Homo sapiens: one gene and its partner. The protein of the gene in region 1 interacts with the protein of each later gene in a biochemical or structural test. Each region holds a gene or a part of one and is shown on either strand. Other genes may lie near its edges.

Region 1 (8,412 bases):
TTTATAAAATGTAATTTTGTATATGCATTTATTTATTTTTACTTGCCATGGCTACCACTGGTAACTGAAACATATTTATGAACTAATTAAAACTGGCAATGATACTGTTAGTCATTGTCCTTGAAAGAGAATATTATAAAAATTAATATGTTGGTAGAGCAGCATTTCCCAGAGTAGGTTCCATGAGAAATAAGTTCCATAGAATATCAATGAGCGTTCCTTAGAGAAAATATTACCTGGTCAAATGTGTGTAAACAAAGCTAAGAATGCTTTGCGAGATTCTCATAGCTTCAATGTCCTGAAGAGCACTGGGAACTCCAGGAATGGGATGTAGTGCCTAGTATTCTCTAAACTCATTTGCCCAGGAAGTTCTTCTTTGGTGGAGCACTCCGTGGGATTAGTATTTCGTAGGATGGCCTTTAGAAACTGCCATACTATGGTATTCAGTGCTGATTTTGTTTTTGTGCTGGTGCAGCTTGCATCTCTGTCCTCTTCTTCAAGTGATCTGCACATCAATTTGGTGGTGACCTTTCTGGGGCATGAAAATCAAATTTTCAGGCCTACTAATTAGTTATCCCCTTTGTCCCCATCTCTTAAAAATAAGATTTTAGGCCAGGTGCCATAGCTCATACCTATAATCCCAGCACTTAGGGAGGCTGAGGTGAGAGGATCACTTGAGGCTTGGAGTTTGAGACCAGCCTGGGCAAAATAGCGAGACCCCATCTCTGCAAAAAAATAAATTAGCCAGGTAAGGTGGCATGCACCTGTAGTCCCAGCTACTTGAGAGGCTAAGGTGGGGGGACTGCTTGAGCCCAGGAGGCCGAGGATGCAGAAAGCCATGATTGCATCACTGCACTCCAGCCTGGAGAGAGCAAGACCCAGTCTCAAAAGAGAGAAAAAAAGAAGGAAAGATGAAAGAAAAGAAAGAAAGAAAGAAGGGAAGGAGGGAGGGAAGGAGGGAGGAAGGGAAGGAAGGAAGGAAAGAAGGAAGGAAGAAAGGAAGGAAAGTAGACTACCATTTCCTAATTTTTAGTCACCTTCTAGTCCTCTACGATCTTTTTAAACTGGCAAATAATATTGCTTTAGTAAGTTTTCTAGTACCTGGAGGTTAAAATTCTTGAAATTTTCATAACTCTTACATTTAAATCATTTTCATTCCTCCTTTCTTCTCACACTCAACTAATATTTATTGAGCACATGTATGGTGCCAGGCACTATTCTAAGCCCTGGGGGCATACTGTAAATAAGACAAGACCCCAAGAAGCTTGTGTTCTTGAGACTGACTCTCCTTGATATTGTTTCATTTATCACCCAAGCATCTTGGATGTTCTGAACCCCAGTTCCTTATCACTTTTTTATACATATTAGTAGGTGAATATTACCCCATAAAGTTAATTTTCAAAGACTATTGAGATCAACACCTTAATGGAGGTGTTAAAATGATGGAACTTCAGACATTAAGGCTTGTAATGAATGGGGAAGTTATTTCATGGAAGATAAGCCTCTGGACATGTGCTTGGAATCACTTAAAACAAACCGGACAGAAGATGGCCAAATAGGAACAGCTCCGGTCTACAGCGCCCAGCATGATCGACACAGAAGACAGGTGATTTCTGCATTTCCAACTGAGGTAACTGGTTCACCTCACCAGGACTGGTCGGAAAGTGAGTGCAGCCCATGGAGGGTGAGCTGAAGCAGGGCAGGGCGTTGCCTCACCCAGGAAGCACAAGGGGTCGGGGGATTTCCCTTTCCTAGCTAAGGGATGCCATGACAGACTACCTGGAAAAACAGGACACTCACACCCAAATACTGTGCTTTTCCCAAGCTCTTAGCAACCTGCAGACAAGGTGATCCTCTCCCGTGCCTGGCTCGGTGGGTCCCATGCCCAAGGAGCCTTGCTCACTGCTAGCGCAGCAGTCTGAGATTGATCTGCGAGGCCGCAGCCTCGCTGGGGGTGGGGTGTCCACCATTGCTGAGGCTTGAGTAGGTAAACAAAGTAGCCAGGAAGCTTGAACTGGGCGGAGCCCACCATAGCTCAACAAGGCCTACTGCCTCTAGACTCCACCTCTGTGAGCAGGGCATAGGTGAACAAAAGGCAGCAAACAACTTCTGCAGACTTAAACATCCCTGTCTGACAGCTCTGAAGAGAGCAGTGGTTCTCCCAGCACAGCGTTTGAGCTCTGAGAATGGACAGACTGCCCCCTCAAGTGGGTCCCTGACCCCCGTGTAGTGTAACTGGGAGACACCTCCCAGTAGGGGCCAACAGACACCTCATATAGGCGGCTGCCCCCCTGGGATGAAGCTTTCAGAGGAAGCATCAGGCAGCAATATTTGCTGTTCTGCAGCCTCCGCTGGTGATACCCAGGCAAACGGGGTCTGGAGTGGAACTCTAGCAAACTCCAACAGATCTGCGGCTGAGGGACCTGACTGTTAGATGGAAAACTAACAAACAGAAAGGAATAGCATCAACATCAACAAAAAGGTCATCTATGCCAAAACCACATCTGTAGGTCACCAACATTAAAGACCAAAGGTAGATAAAACCACAAAGATGGGGAGAAACCAGAGCAGAAAGCTGAACATTCTAAAAATCAGAGCGCCTCTTCTAAACCAAAAGGTTGCAGCTCCTTGCCAGCAATGAAACAAAGCTGGATGGAGAATGACTTTGAGGACTTGACAGAAGTAGGCTTCAGAAAGTCAGTAATAACAAACTCCTCCAAGCTAAAGGAGGATGTTCGAACCCATCGCAAGGAAGCTTAAAACCTTTAAAAAAGATTAGACGAATGGCTAACTAGAATAAACAGTATAGAGAAGACCTTAAATGACCTGATGGAGCTGAAAACCATGGCACAAGAACTTCATGACGCATGTGCAAGCTTCAATAGCCAATTCAATCAAGTGGAAGAAAGAGTATCAGTGACTGAAGATCAAATTAATGAAATAAAGTGAGAAGACAAGGTTAGAGAAAAAAGAGTAAAAAGAAACGAACAAAGCCTCCAAGAAATATGGGACTATGTGAAAAGACCAAATCTATGTTTGGATTGGTGTTGGGAGCAGGCCCCTCAAAATCTGGCCATAAACTGGCCCCAAAACTGGCCATAAACAAAATCTCTGCAGCACTGTAACATGTTCATAATGGCCCTAACGCCCAAGCTGGAAGGTTGTGTGTCTACGGGAATGAAGGCAAGGAACACCTGGCCTGCCCAGGGAGGAAAACCGCTTAAAGGCATTCTTAAGCCACAAACAATAGCATGAGCGATCTGTGCCTTAAGGACATTCTCCTGCTGCAGTTAACTAGCCCAACCTATTCCTTTCATTCGGCCATCCCTTTGTTTCCCATAAGGGATACTTTTAGTTAATTTAATATCTATAGAAACAATGCTAATGACTGGCTTGCTGTTAATAAAAACATGGGTAAATCTCTGTTCCGGGATCTCAGCTCTGAAAGCTGTGAGACCCCTGATTTCCCACTTCAAACCTCTATATTTCTGTGTGTGTGTCTTTAAATTCCTTTAGCACCACTGGGTAAAGGTCTCCCTGACCGAGCTGGTCTTGGCAGATTTGTGTACCTGAAAGTGATGGGGAGAATGGACCAAGTTGCAAAACACTCTTCAGGATATTATCCAGGAGAACTTCCCCAATCTAGCAAGGCAGGCCAACATTTAAATTCAGGAAATACAGAGAACACCACAAAGATACTCCTTGAGAAAAGCAACCCCAAGACACATAATTGTCAGATTCACCAAGGTTGAAATGAAGGAAAAAGTGTTAAGGGCAGCCAGAGAGAAAGGTCGAGTTACCCACAAAAGGAAGCCCATTAGACTAACAGTGGATCTCTTGGCAGAAATCCTATAAGCTAGAAGAGAGTGGGGGCCTACATTCAACATTCTTAAAGAAAATAATTTTCAACCCAGAATTTCATATCCAGCCAAACTAAGCTTCGTAAGGGAAGGAGAAATAAAATCCTTTACAGACAAGCAAAATGCTGAGAGATTTTATCACCACCAGGCCTGCCTTACAAGGGCTCCTGAAGGAAGCACTAAACATGGAAAGAAACAACCAGTACCAGCCACTGCAAAAACATGCCAAATTGTAAAGACCCTTGATGCTATGAAGAAACTACATCAATTAATGGGCAAAATAACCAGCAAACATCATAATGACAGGATCAAATTCACATATAACAATATTAACCTTAAATGTAAGTGGGCTAAATGCTCCAATTAAAAGACACAGACTGGCAAATTGGATAAAGAGTCAAGACCCATCGGTGTGCTGTATTCAGAGACCCATCTGATGTGCAAAGATTCACATAGGCTCAAAATAAAGGAATGGAGAAAGATCTACCAAGGAAATGGAAAGCGAAAAAAAGCAGGGGTTGCAATCCTAGTCTCTGATAAAACAGACTTTAAGATCAGAAGGGACAAAGAAGGCCATTACATAATGGTAAAGGGATCAATTCAACAAGAAGAGCTAACTATCCTAAATATATATGCACCCAATACAGGAGCACCCAGATTCAGAAAGCAAGTTCTTAGATACCTACAAAGAGACTTAGATTCCCATGCAATAATAATGGGAAAATTTAACACCCTGCTCTCAGCATTAGACAGATCAATGACACAGAAAGTTAACAAGGATATCCAGGACCAGAACTCAGCTCTGCAACAAGCAGACCTAATAGGCATCTACAGAACTCTCCACCCCAAATCAACAGAATATATATTCTTCTCAGCACCACATCATATTTATTCTAAAATTGACCACATAATTGGAAGTAAAGCACTCCTCAGCAAATGTAAAAGAACAGAAATCACAACAAACTGTCTCTCAGACCACAGTGCAATCAAATTAGAACTCAGGATTAAGAAACTCACTCAAAACCACACAACTACATGGAAACTGAACAACTTGCTCCTGAATGACTACTGGGTAAATCACGAAATGAAGGCAGAAATACAGATGTTCTTTGAAACCAATGAGAACAAAGACACAACATACCAGAATCTCTGGGACGCATTTAAAGCAGGATGTAGAGGAAAATTTATAGCACTAAATGCCCACAAGAGAAACCAGGAAAGATCTAAAATTGACACCCTAACATCACAATTAAAAGAACTAGAGAAGCAAGAGCAAACAAATTCAAAAGCTAGCAGAAGACAAGAAATAACTAAGATCAGAGCAGAACTGAAAGAGATAGAGACAGAAAAAAACCCTTTAAAAAATCAATGAATCCAGGAGCTGGTTTTTTGAAAAGATTAACAAAATAGACCGCTAGCAAGACTAATAAAGAAGAAAAGAGAGTAGATTCAAATAGATGCAATAAAAAATGATAAAGAGGATATCACCACCTATCTCACAGAAATACAAACTACCATCAGAGAATACTGTAAGCACCTCTACACAAATAAAGTAGAAAATCTAGAAGAAATGGATAAATTCCTGGACACATACACCCTCCCAAGACTAAACCAGGAAGAAGTCAAATCTCTGAATAGACCAATAACAGGCTCTGAAATTGAGGCAATAAATAATAGCCTACCAACCAAAAAAAGTCCAGGACCAGATGAATTCACAGCCGAATCCTACCAGAGGTACAAAGAGGAGCTGGTACCATTCCTTCTGAAACTCTTCCAATCAATAGAAAAAGAGGGAATCCTCCCTAACTCATTTTATGAGGACAACATAATCCTGATACCAAAGCCTGGCAGAGACACAACAAAAAAAGAGAATTTTAGACCAATATCCCTGATGAACATCGATGCAAAAATCCTCAATAAAATACTGGCAAATGAATCCAGCAGCACATCCACCACGATCAAGTTGGCTTCATCCCTGGGATGCAAGGCTGGTTCAACATATGCAAATCAATAAATGTAACCCATCACATAAACAGAACCAACAACAAAAACCACATGATTATCTCAATAGATGCAGAAAAGGCCTTTGACAAAATTCAACAGCCCTTCATGCTAAAAACTCTCAATGAACTAGGTATTGATGGAACATATCTCAAAATAATAAGAGCTATTTAGGACAAACCCACAGCCAATATCATACTGAATGGGCAAAAACTGGAAGCATTCCCTTTGAAAACCAGCACAAGACAAGGAAGCCCTCTCTCACCACCCTATTCGACATAGTGTTGGAAGTTCTGGCCAGGGCAATCAGGCAACAGAAAGAAATAAAGGGTATTCAGTTAGGAAAAGAGGAAGTCAAATTGTCCCTGTTTGCAGATGACAAGATTGTATATTTAGAAAACCCCATCATCTCAGCCCAAAATCTCCTTAAGCTGATAAGCAACTTCAGCAAAGTCTCAGGATACAAAATTAATGTGCAAAAATCACAAGCATTCCTATACACCATTATCAGAAAAACAGAGAGCCAAATCATGAGTGAACTCCCATTCACAATTGCTACAAAGAGAATAAAATACCTAGGAATCCAACTTACAAGGGACGTGAAGGACCTCCTCAAGGAGAACTGTAAGCCACTGCTCAACTAAATAAAAGAGGATAGAAACAAATGGGAGAACATTCCATGCTCATAGATAGGAAGAATCAATATCATGAAAATGGCCATACTGCCCAAAGTAATTTATAGATTCAATGCCATCCCCATCAAGCTACCAATGACTTTCTTCACAGAACTTGAAAAAACTACTTTAAAGTTCATATGGAACCAAAAAAAGAGCCCACATTGTCAAGACAATCCTAAGCAAAAGGAACAAAGCTGGAGGCATCACACTACCTGACTTCAAACTATACTACAAGGCTACAGTAACCAAAACAGCATGGTATTGCTACCAAAACAGAGGTATAGACCAATGGAACAGAACAGAGGCCTCAGAAATAACACAACACATCTACAACCATCTGATCTTTGACAAACCCAACAAAAACAAGCAATGGGGAAAGGATTCCCTATTTAATAAATCGTGCTGGGAAAACTGGCTACCCAAACATAGAAAGCTGAAACTGGATCCCTTCCTTACACCTTACACAAAAATTGATTCAAGATGGTTTAAAGACATAAATGTTAGACCTAAAACCATAAAAACCCTAGAAGAAAACCTAGGCAATACCGTTCAGAACATAGGCATGGACAAGGACTTCATGACTAAAACACCAAAAGCAATGGCAACAAAAGCCAAAATAGACAAATGGGATCTAATTAAACTAAAGAGCTTCTGCACAGCAAAAGAAACTATCAGCAGAGTGAACAGGCAACCTACAGAATGGGAGAAGATTTTTGCAATCTACCCATCTGACAAAGGGCTAATATCCAGAATCTACAAAGAACTCAAACAAATTTACAAGAAAAAAACAACCCCATCAAAAAGTGGGTGAAGGATATGAACAGACACTTCTCAAAAGAAGACATCTATGCAGCCAACAGACACATGAAAAAATACTCATCATCACTGGTCATCAGAGAAATGCAAATCAAAACCACAATGAGATACCATCTAATGCCAGTTAGAATGGCAATCATTAAAAAGTCAGGAAACAACAGATGCTAGAGAGGATGTGGAGAAATAGGAACGCTTTTACACTGTTGGTGGGAGTGTAAATTAGTTCAACCATTGTGGAAGACAGTGTGGCAATTCCTCAAGGATCTAGAACTAGAATTACCATTTGACCCAGCAATCCCATTACTGGGTATATACCCAAAGGATTATAAATCATGCTACTATAAAGACACATGCACACGTATGTTTATTGAGGCACTATTCAGAAGAGCAAAGACTTGGAACCCAAATGTCCATCAATAATAGACTGGATTAAGAAAATGTAGCACATATACACCATGGAATACTATGCAGCCATAAAAAAGGATGAGTTCATGTCCTTTGTAGGGACATGGATGAAGCCGGAAACCATCATTCTCAGCAAACTATCACAAGGACAGAAAAGCAAACACCACATGTTTTCACTCATAGATGGGAAATGAACAATGAGATCACTTGGACACAGGGCGGTGAACATCACACACTGGGGCCTGTCGGGGGGTGGGGAGCTGGGGGAGGGATAGCATTAGGAGAAATACCTAATATAAATGATGAATTGATGGGTGCAGCAAACCAACATGGCACATGTATACCTATGTAACAAACCTGCACGTTGTGCACATGTACCCTAGAACTTAAAGTATAAAAACAAAAAACAACAACAAAAACAAACAGACACATGTAAAGTAAAGCTCAGTGCTTTTTATGTGTATGTGTTATTTTATCCTTCTGCCAGAGATAGGTGATATAGCTCATGAACTAGTTATTATGGGATAGTCATGAGATGTTAGCATCCTCATAATATAGTGAAGAAACTGAGGCGTGAAAAGGTCATACGCCTTGCCTAAGGTCATCTGGATATGAAACAGTAGAGCCAGAACTGGAATCCAGACCTTCTTCAC
Region 2 (6,900 bases), on another chromosome or scaffold:
CACATATACCCACCTGTGTAACAAAAATAATCAAAGCAGGTGGGTTTGCAAACACACCTCGTTTGTAAAAAATGCAACAACACAAACACACTGTCCAAACTTTGGGCAGAAAAAACAACATGGGTTTATTTTAAGGTAAGTACAACGATTAAGACCACGTAAGACAAACACAGATGAAGTTAGAGTTTTTAAGCTTTTTTTTTTTTTTTCTTTTAGGAATACTCAGGGTGGAACCTACTATACAAAACCATCACACTTTGTAAATAAAAAGTATCAGATACTTGACTTCTTTATCCACCAACAAAAAAATAAATTATTTTCTTGTTTTGTAAAAGACCTACAATGGGAAAAAGAATTATATCTCATAATTGTACAGGAAACAAAACCCACATCGGTTTCTTGAATTCAATTTGGCAGTTAGAAATGGTTGGGCAAGATGAAAAACTTATCCAGTGAACTCAACTTTAAATATTATATTAATGGCTCTGAACAACAACAACAACAACAAAATAGCCTGATTACAAATCCACACATTTGTACAGCACGGTTGGAGAAATTTAAAATTACACACAGCACATATATTATCTATAGAGACCCCCATACACCTATGGGGACCCCTACAGAAAGTCACTAGGGGCTCGCTATGGGATTTGGTCCATAACTTAACTTTTGAAAGCTCAGGTCGAGCACAGCACAGCCGTCCTGGTAGGGGAGGGGGATTTTAAGATCAATACTCATTTTGTTGGGCTGCGTCCCTTTGGAGGGGTTTCCTGGGATCCCAGAAACGGGGCGGCGAATTAAAGTTACCTGCGCTCTTCACAGACGGCTGGGGGCTAGCGTGCCCGCTCTCTGCTCCCGGGTCTGAGAAAAGGTTGGTGGACATGTTTTGTTTCTTTTTTGCGTCTCTGCAGCCCCTTAATTGTCTGGTTGGGTCGGGGCTGGGAAGCGAAGCCGGAGCGGGCCGGGGAGGGGAGGTCCCGGGACACGTCAGTATTTCGTGCAGTCGTAGGAGTAGGGGGCTGCGTGGCGATAGAGAGGCGGCGTGGATCTGTAGGGCAGCTGGCAGCTGGCATTGCCACTCACCTGGGACTCCCCGAGGGTCGAGTTCTCAATCCCCAGCCGGTGGGAGTTGAACATCTCCCGCACGTTGGGGAAAGTTTGCTGCTGGGCCGCGAACGTGTGGCCGGGGAGGTGGTTCAGGTCCCCGCTGTGGTTGAGATACCAGGAGGCCGCCTGCGCCGCGGCGGCCCCGGGCTGCGGCGTCGGCTGGGGCTGGGGAGCCGGCGGGGGCGGCGGCGCCTGCGGGTGGTGGTGGCCGTGGTGCTGGTGGTGGTGGCCCGTGGCGGCGAGCGCGCCCTCCTGGCCGGCGGCGAGGTTGAGAGCGCTCAGGGGCGACGTGGGGCCGCTCGGGTGGTCCGAGAGGGCCTCGTCCAGGGCGGGCGGGACGCACATGTGCGCCGGCCGCTCGGCCCCGGTGTACAGGCTCATCGCTCGCATGCTGCACTGGTAGCCCCCGGCGGCCCCGGCCTCCAGGCCCTGAGCGCACGGCTGGCCGTAGGCGGCGGGCGGCGCGGCGGCGTAGGGCAGCGCCAGCGGCGGCACCACCAGGCCCGCGCGTCCGGCCCCCGGGCTCAGCTCTCCGCCCGGCGGCGACGTTCGCAGGGTCATGATGTTCTCCACGCTGAAGCCAGGCAGCCCGTTGGGCGCCGCGGCGTGGTGCTCCGGCAGCGAGCCGTCGGGGGAGCCGGCGGGCGTGGAGGCCGCGCTGCGCGGGCTGCCCTGCAGCGCGCTCTCGGGGCTCAGCGTCTCCACCTTGGTGATGACCGGCAGCGCCGGGGACGCCGCCTCGCTCTTGATCACCACCTTCTTCTCGGCCTCCTTGGGGGCGTCCGCTAGGTGGGGGGTGGCCGGGGCGCCCTTGGACGCCGCCGGGGGCGGCTCCTTGAGGTGGGCCCGCTCCTCCTTCTCCTTGGACACGTCCTTCTTTTTGAAGCGCCGCCGGCGCCGCAGGAAGCTGCCGTTCTCGAACATGTTGTAGGAGTCCGGGTCCAGGGTCCAGTAACTGCCCTTGCCGGGCTTCTTGTCGTCGCGGGGCACCTTGACGAAGCACTCGTTGAGCGAGAGGTTGTGGCGGATGCTGTTCTGCCAGCCCTGCTTGTTCTCCCGGTAGAAGGGGAAGCGGTCCATGATGAACTGGTAGATGCCGTTCAAGGTGATCTTCTTCTCGGGCGCGTTCTGGATGGCCATGGTGATGAGCGCGATGTAGCTGTAGGGCGGCTTCACCAGGTCCTTAGGCGCCGCGGGCTGGTGGTGGTGGTAGGGCGCGTAGGAGCGGCCCATCCCCGCGCTGTACTGCTCCGGGTGGCCGGAATAGACGCCCATGGGGCTGGCCATGCCGCCGTAGCTGCCCGCAGCCCGGTAGTAATTCTGCTCGCTCAGGTAGGGCACCACTCCCAGGGCGTTGGGGTCGGACACGGAGTAGCGCGCCTGCATGCTGCTTCCGAGACGGCTCGCCGGCGCCCTCGCGCACGGACTGCGGCCGGGGGAGCGAGGGGGGCCCTGAGAGCGAGAGAGCGCGAGAGAGCCAGAGGGGGAGAGGAGGGGAGCGGGAGGGGCGGCCCCGGGCTCCTGGCAGCCTCCGGGGCGAGGGTGCGCGGGCGGCGGCGCTCGGGCCGAGCAGGGGCGCGCGCTTTCAGCGGACCGGGCGGATCGGCATCCTGGAGGGCGCGCCCCGGGCAAGCGCAGCGCCGGCCCCGCTCCTCGCTGGCTCCAGGACCCGGCGGCGGCAGCGCGGGCAGGCGGGCGGCCGCGGACCCAGCGGAGACGCCGCGGCCTGGGGACCCAGGTGGACCCTCGGCCCGCGCGAGGAGGGGCGCAGGAGGCTCTCCAAGCCCCCAGCGAATCGGCAGCCCCGAGGGTCAGCGCGCCGGGGTCCGAGCGGCTGCCCCGCTGAGCCCAGAAAAAGAGGCCAAGTCCCTTTTAGGGATTGGGAAAAGTTTCAAAAGTCTTCTTGCTGAAAGCGAGTTTTTACTTTCCTCGGGCCACGCCCCCTCCCGGAACTTTGAGCCAATCACCCGGCAGCTGAGAGGAGTCGGCGCCAATCGGGGCGAGGAGCGCAGGAATCCGTCGGCTCTAAGACCCCGCCGCCCCGGCCTCCGCGGCGACTCCGTCTTCACTTGAAAACTTTTTAAAAAGTTATATCTTATTAAAATTTATTTTATGATCACATTTTGGTGAATGGGCCCACATGCCCAAAACAAAAAGATAGCCACTTTCCTCTGTTAAAAAAAATCAATTTGAAATATAAAATAGAATGGATTAATAGAGTAAAATATCTCTCCCAAAGACCTTGTAAGTAGCAATGATCCTGGGACATTTTTCTTATTAATGAGTGATGAAGCGAATAATTAGATTTCCTAATTATGGGGGCCCAGGTGTAATGGATTCAAAGCAAACGCGCTGGATTGGAATGGCAGGGCCTCTCCTGGATGTTATACTTATTTAATCAAATAATTAATCATCAACAGGGAGTTTCCAGGCTCGGGGTCGTCAAGGATAACCTATCGAGGTTTTAGAGGTAAACCCTACAAACTGAGTTTCCCTCGCTCCCCGCCGAGGAGCCAGGCAGCGGAGTGCATAGAGGGGAAGGTAGCAACGTGCTGACTGACAACTTAATCCTCCGAATTCGCGGGGAATTCGGTAGATCATCCGCGTCGCTGCGAGCAGTTTTGTGGGGTTTGGGGAAAAGGGTGAAGTGACTCTGCTATTTCCCCCTTTCGTCTCCCGCGTGGACACTCGCAGCCTACCAACTTCAGCTTCGAAACTCGTCTCCCTTTTCCCAGGTAGAAATTCCCTCTAACAAGCTGACCCCGCACTCCCAGAAGACCGGGACAATGCAGCGACCCACCCGGGCCAGGCAGAGCCGAGTTCCTGGGCCCTGCGAGGAGAAACCCGAGCCTGTTTTCCGCGGGGGCTTGGCTCGAAGGCGCGCGCAATGAGCGCCGCGCACCGCGGGCACCAAGCGTGGACGTTTCCCGTGGCCCAGGCCGGCGCCGGCCGCTAACACCGACCCTAGGGCGCTGTCCCTGCCTCCTGCTCCTGGCAACGTCCCCCTGGGAGCCTCCAAGTTGCTTTTCTATATTTCAGCCTTTTTTTTGTTTTGTTGGGTGGGTAGGGTGAGTTAGGGAGCGCGCTCCGTGGGAAGACTGGGTGAGCGGTTGATTGCAAACGGTTCAAGATCCCTTCGGGATGATATTATTCGGCAGGCAGACCTGGAGCGACTTGGATCTCCTTCAAGGATTTCTCCTTCCCTCTAGGAATCCCGGACAGTTTGTTTATTTGTGGACTGATTATTTATTCCTTCCACACCTCAATAATCAGATCCCCTTTTCCCACTTTCCCTGAAGGAGTGAGACACCCCTTTAACAAGGCTAAACACGGGCAGAATTTTGGAAGTTGCTGGTCTGGTTGGGCAGGGAAGAGGGCTTCAGGGAGAACATTTGTATTTCAGGTTTCCTTGCACCCTTCCTGGCTGTTCATCGGCTGCGTATTCGATTCTCAGCAAAAGGATGTTGAGACAACCCACCAGGCCTCTTCGCTTCGGCCTCTTCGCTTCGGGGAGGCGACTAGAAGGCAATGGGGCGTGCCACTTATTTCCAATAAAAGAACAGAAGACGAAAATGTAGATGCATTATCTTTGTCTCCTGATCAATTCAAAGCCAAAGGGAAGCTACAAATCAGGTTCCTTTACCTTGAATATTCCACTTCTGAAACATTGTTTTTATGAGTATTCTGGGCTCTTTTTCTAACCTGATCCTTTTTCTTCTTTCTTTGAAACAAAGTAAAATAAAGCTGCCCAGTTCTCAGCTCACAGGCAAATGATTTGAGCTTTCTGCCCCAACCCTAAACTCCCACCATGACTTTATTATTTTTAATAAGCTAGTATTTCCGCATCTAGCTTAAAAAAAAAAAAGGACTAGCAAAAAGTGCCCTTCTCCTGCAGCGCATGACAGGCACACTGAGTTCGTGTCACGATTTTACTGGAAATGCAAACTATTGATCAAGAAACACTCCTCAGCCTGTAGGCTTCCTGGAGGAATATTATTTACTCTGCTTTTACGAGGGGTGTGTGTGTGTGTGTGAGAGAGAGAGAGAGAGAGAAACAGCTTTATCACAGCAAAACCTAAAATAGCTAAGGACTATGAAAAAATAAATTCCAAAATGGCAGTTGCTGCCTACGTTTGTATTCACAAGGGTGTCCCGGTTTAAACCAATGTCATCTGGGGAAACAAACAAACAAACAAACAAACACCTAAATCGAGTCGCCCAATATATTATCCACCCTCCCCCGCCCCAAAGAAAGGAAAAGGGGAGGGGAAAGAAATTCGTCTCATCAAGACAGAAAAGGTGAGAGAGACACTTCCCTTTACCCCTGGAATTAGGTTTCTTGTTTGCTCAGTGGGACTCCGGGAAAGATGTTTGTTCAGGTTATTAAAACAACGCCTTCCATACACCTGGACTTTGCAAAAACCGTATTTCCCAGCTTTTCTTTAACCTGCCAGGGTATTTCGGATGGGGGGCTGCTACTTTCTGGCTGATTTTCCCCCTTCTTGACCTTGTAAGTCAGTGAGCCGAACGCGGAATCGGGTCCCAGAGGGCCTCGCGTGTTCCTGGAATAATAAGCGGCGATAAAGCCTAAAGGTATTTAATTCGCCTTCCGCCCCCACCGCGCTGCGCTCCTCCCGGCCCGTGGCCGCTGCACCTGGAGCGGCTGGGCGGACTCCGTGGGTGTTGGCGTCATCTTGAGGCCAACCAGGGAACTACTACGAGAAAAGGAAAAAGAAAAAGACCGCCCGGCCCGCCCTGCTTATCATGAAGGTGCTGACACCTTGTGGATACTCCTGGGCATTGCACGGCTGGAATGGAGCCTTCAGAAATCTGTAAAAGCAGAGAAAGGAGATAAACTGCATCGCGTCGATTAAAAAACATTTCCCGTAACTTCGCAACGTGTCAAGAACATGATCTGTTGGGAAACAAAAATGTCTTTGAAACTGCTCGGGGAGCAAGAAATTTTCTCTAGGGAAACTTGCTGGGGTTTTCCCCAAATAAAATCTATGCCTCTTAGGTGGCTAGAAGTCTGCATTTTCTTCCCCCGGAGTTGTTGAACAAATTGCCTCGTCCATGTTTTCCCGCTGCAGCTGTCTTTCTGCCCGAGGTGTGGCGTGAGCTTCAGGGAATTCATCAGAAAGCTGTTTGTGCTGGTCGTGTGTTTAGAGGGTTGGCTTGAACAAGAGGCAGACTTTGAAACTGGGCAGCAGCCACTTCTACTTTTGAGGTACAACAGAGAACTCAAAGAGGGGACAAGTGAAAGGAGTTTTGTTTCTTGTCTCACTATTTCCCATTCATTCATTTCAATATCCTTCAAACATTTCTTTTCTGGGGTCACGAGGTGCCTTGGTTTTGAGGAAAGGGATCGGGTGGCAGAGGAGTCCCAGGCTTCCAGAAGCTGCCTGAGAACCGAGGAGCCCTTGGGTTACACAAAGTCGGCGCCACCTCCTAAAAATCCATTGTAATCCGGCTTCTAAACTTTTGTGGGACAAAAAAAGTGTCTTTTCTAAAACTCAGTTCAAGCTCATTTTACTGTGTGTGAGTTTTCCGGTGAGTGAAAGCCATGCTGCGCCATCGACAAAGGGCAGGGCCAGAAAGGACTACAGAAGCGGGTGGGTAGTGAGAACTGCTGTTGGTCACAAGGATTAAAGAAACTCAACAAGTAAACGCAACCCTCAATCCTAGGCGGAAGAAATTTTTTTTTCTTTTTTCTTTTTTTCCTGTTGTTGTTGAGACGGAGTCTTGCTCTGTCGCCCACGCTGGAGTGCAGTGGCACGATCTCCGCTCACTGCA

The links.
Region 2: the proteins of NPHS2 (region 1) and FOXC2 form a complex in vitro, tested with the Homo sapiens proteins (one study listed by BioGRID).

The regions. Positions count from the first base shown.
Region 1 is NC_000001.11:179,565,330-179,573,741, reverse strand, and holds part of NPHS2 (podocin), read left to right. Parts: intron 1-8,412. UniProt on the Homo sapiens protein: Plays a role in the regulation of glomerular permeability, acting probably as a linker between the plasma membrane and the cytoskeleton.
Region 2 is NC_000016.10:86,562,929-86,569,828, reverse strand, and holds FOXC2 (forkhead box protein C2), read right to left. Parts: upstream 3,001-6,900; 5' UTR 2,494-3,000; coding exon 988-2,493; 3' UTR 101-987; downstream 1-100. UniProt on the Homo sapiens protein: Transcriptional activator.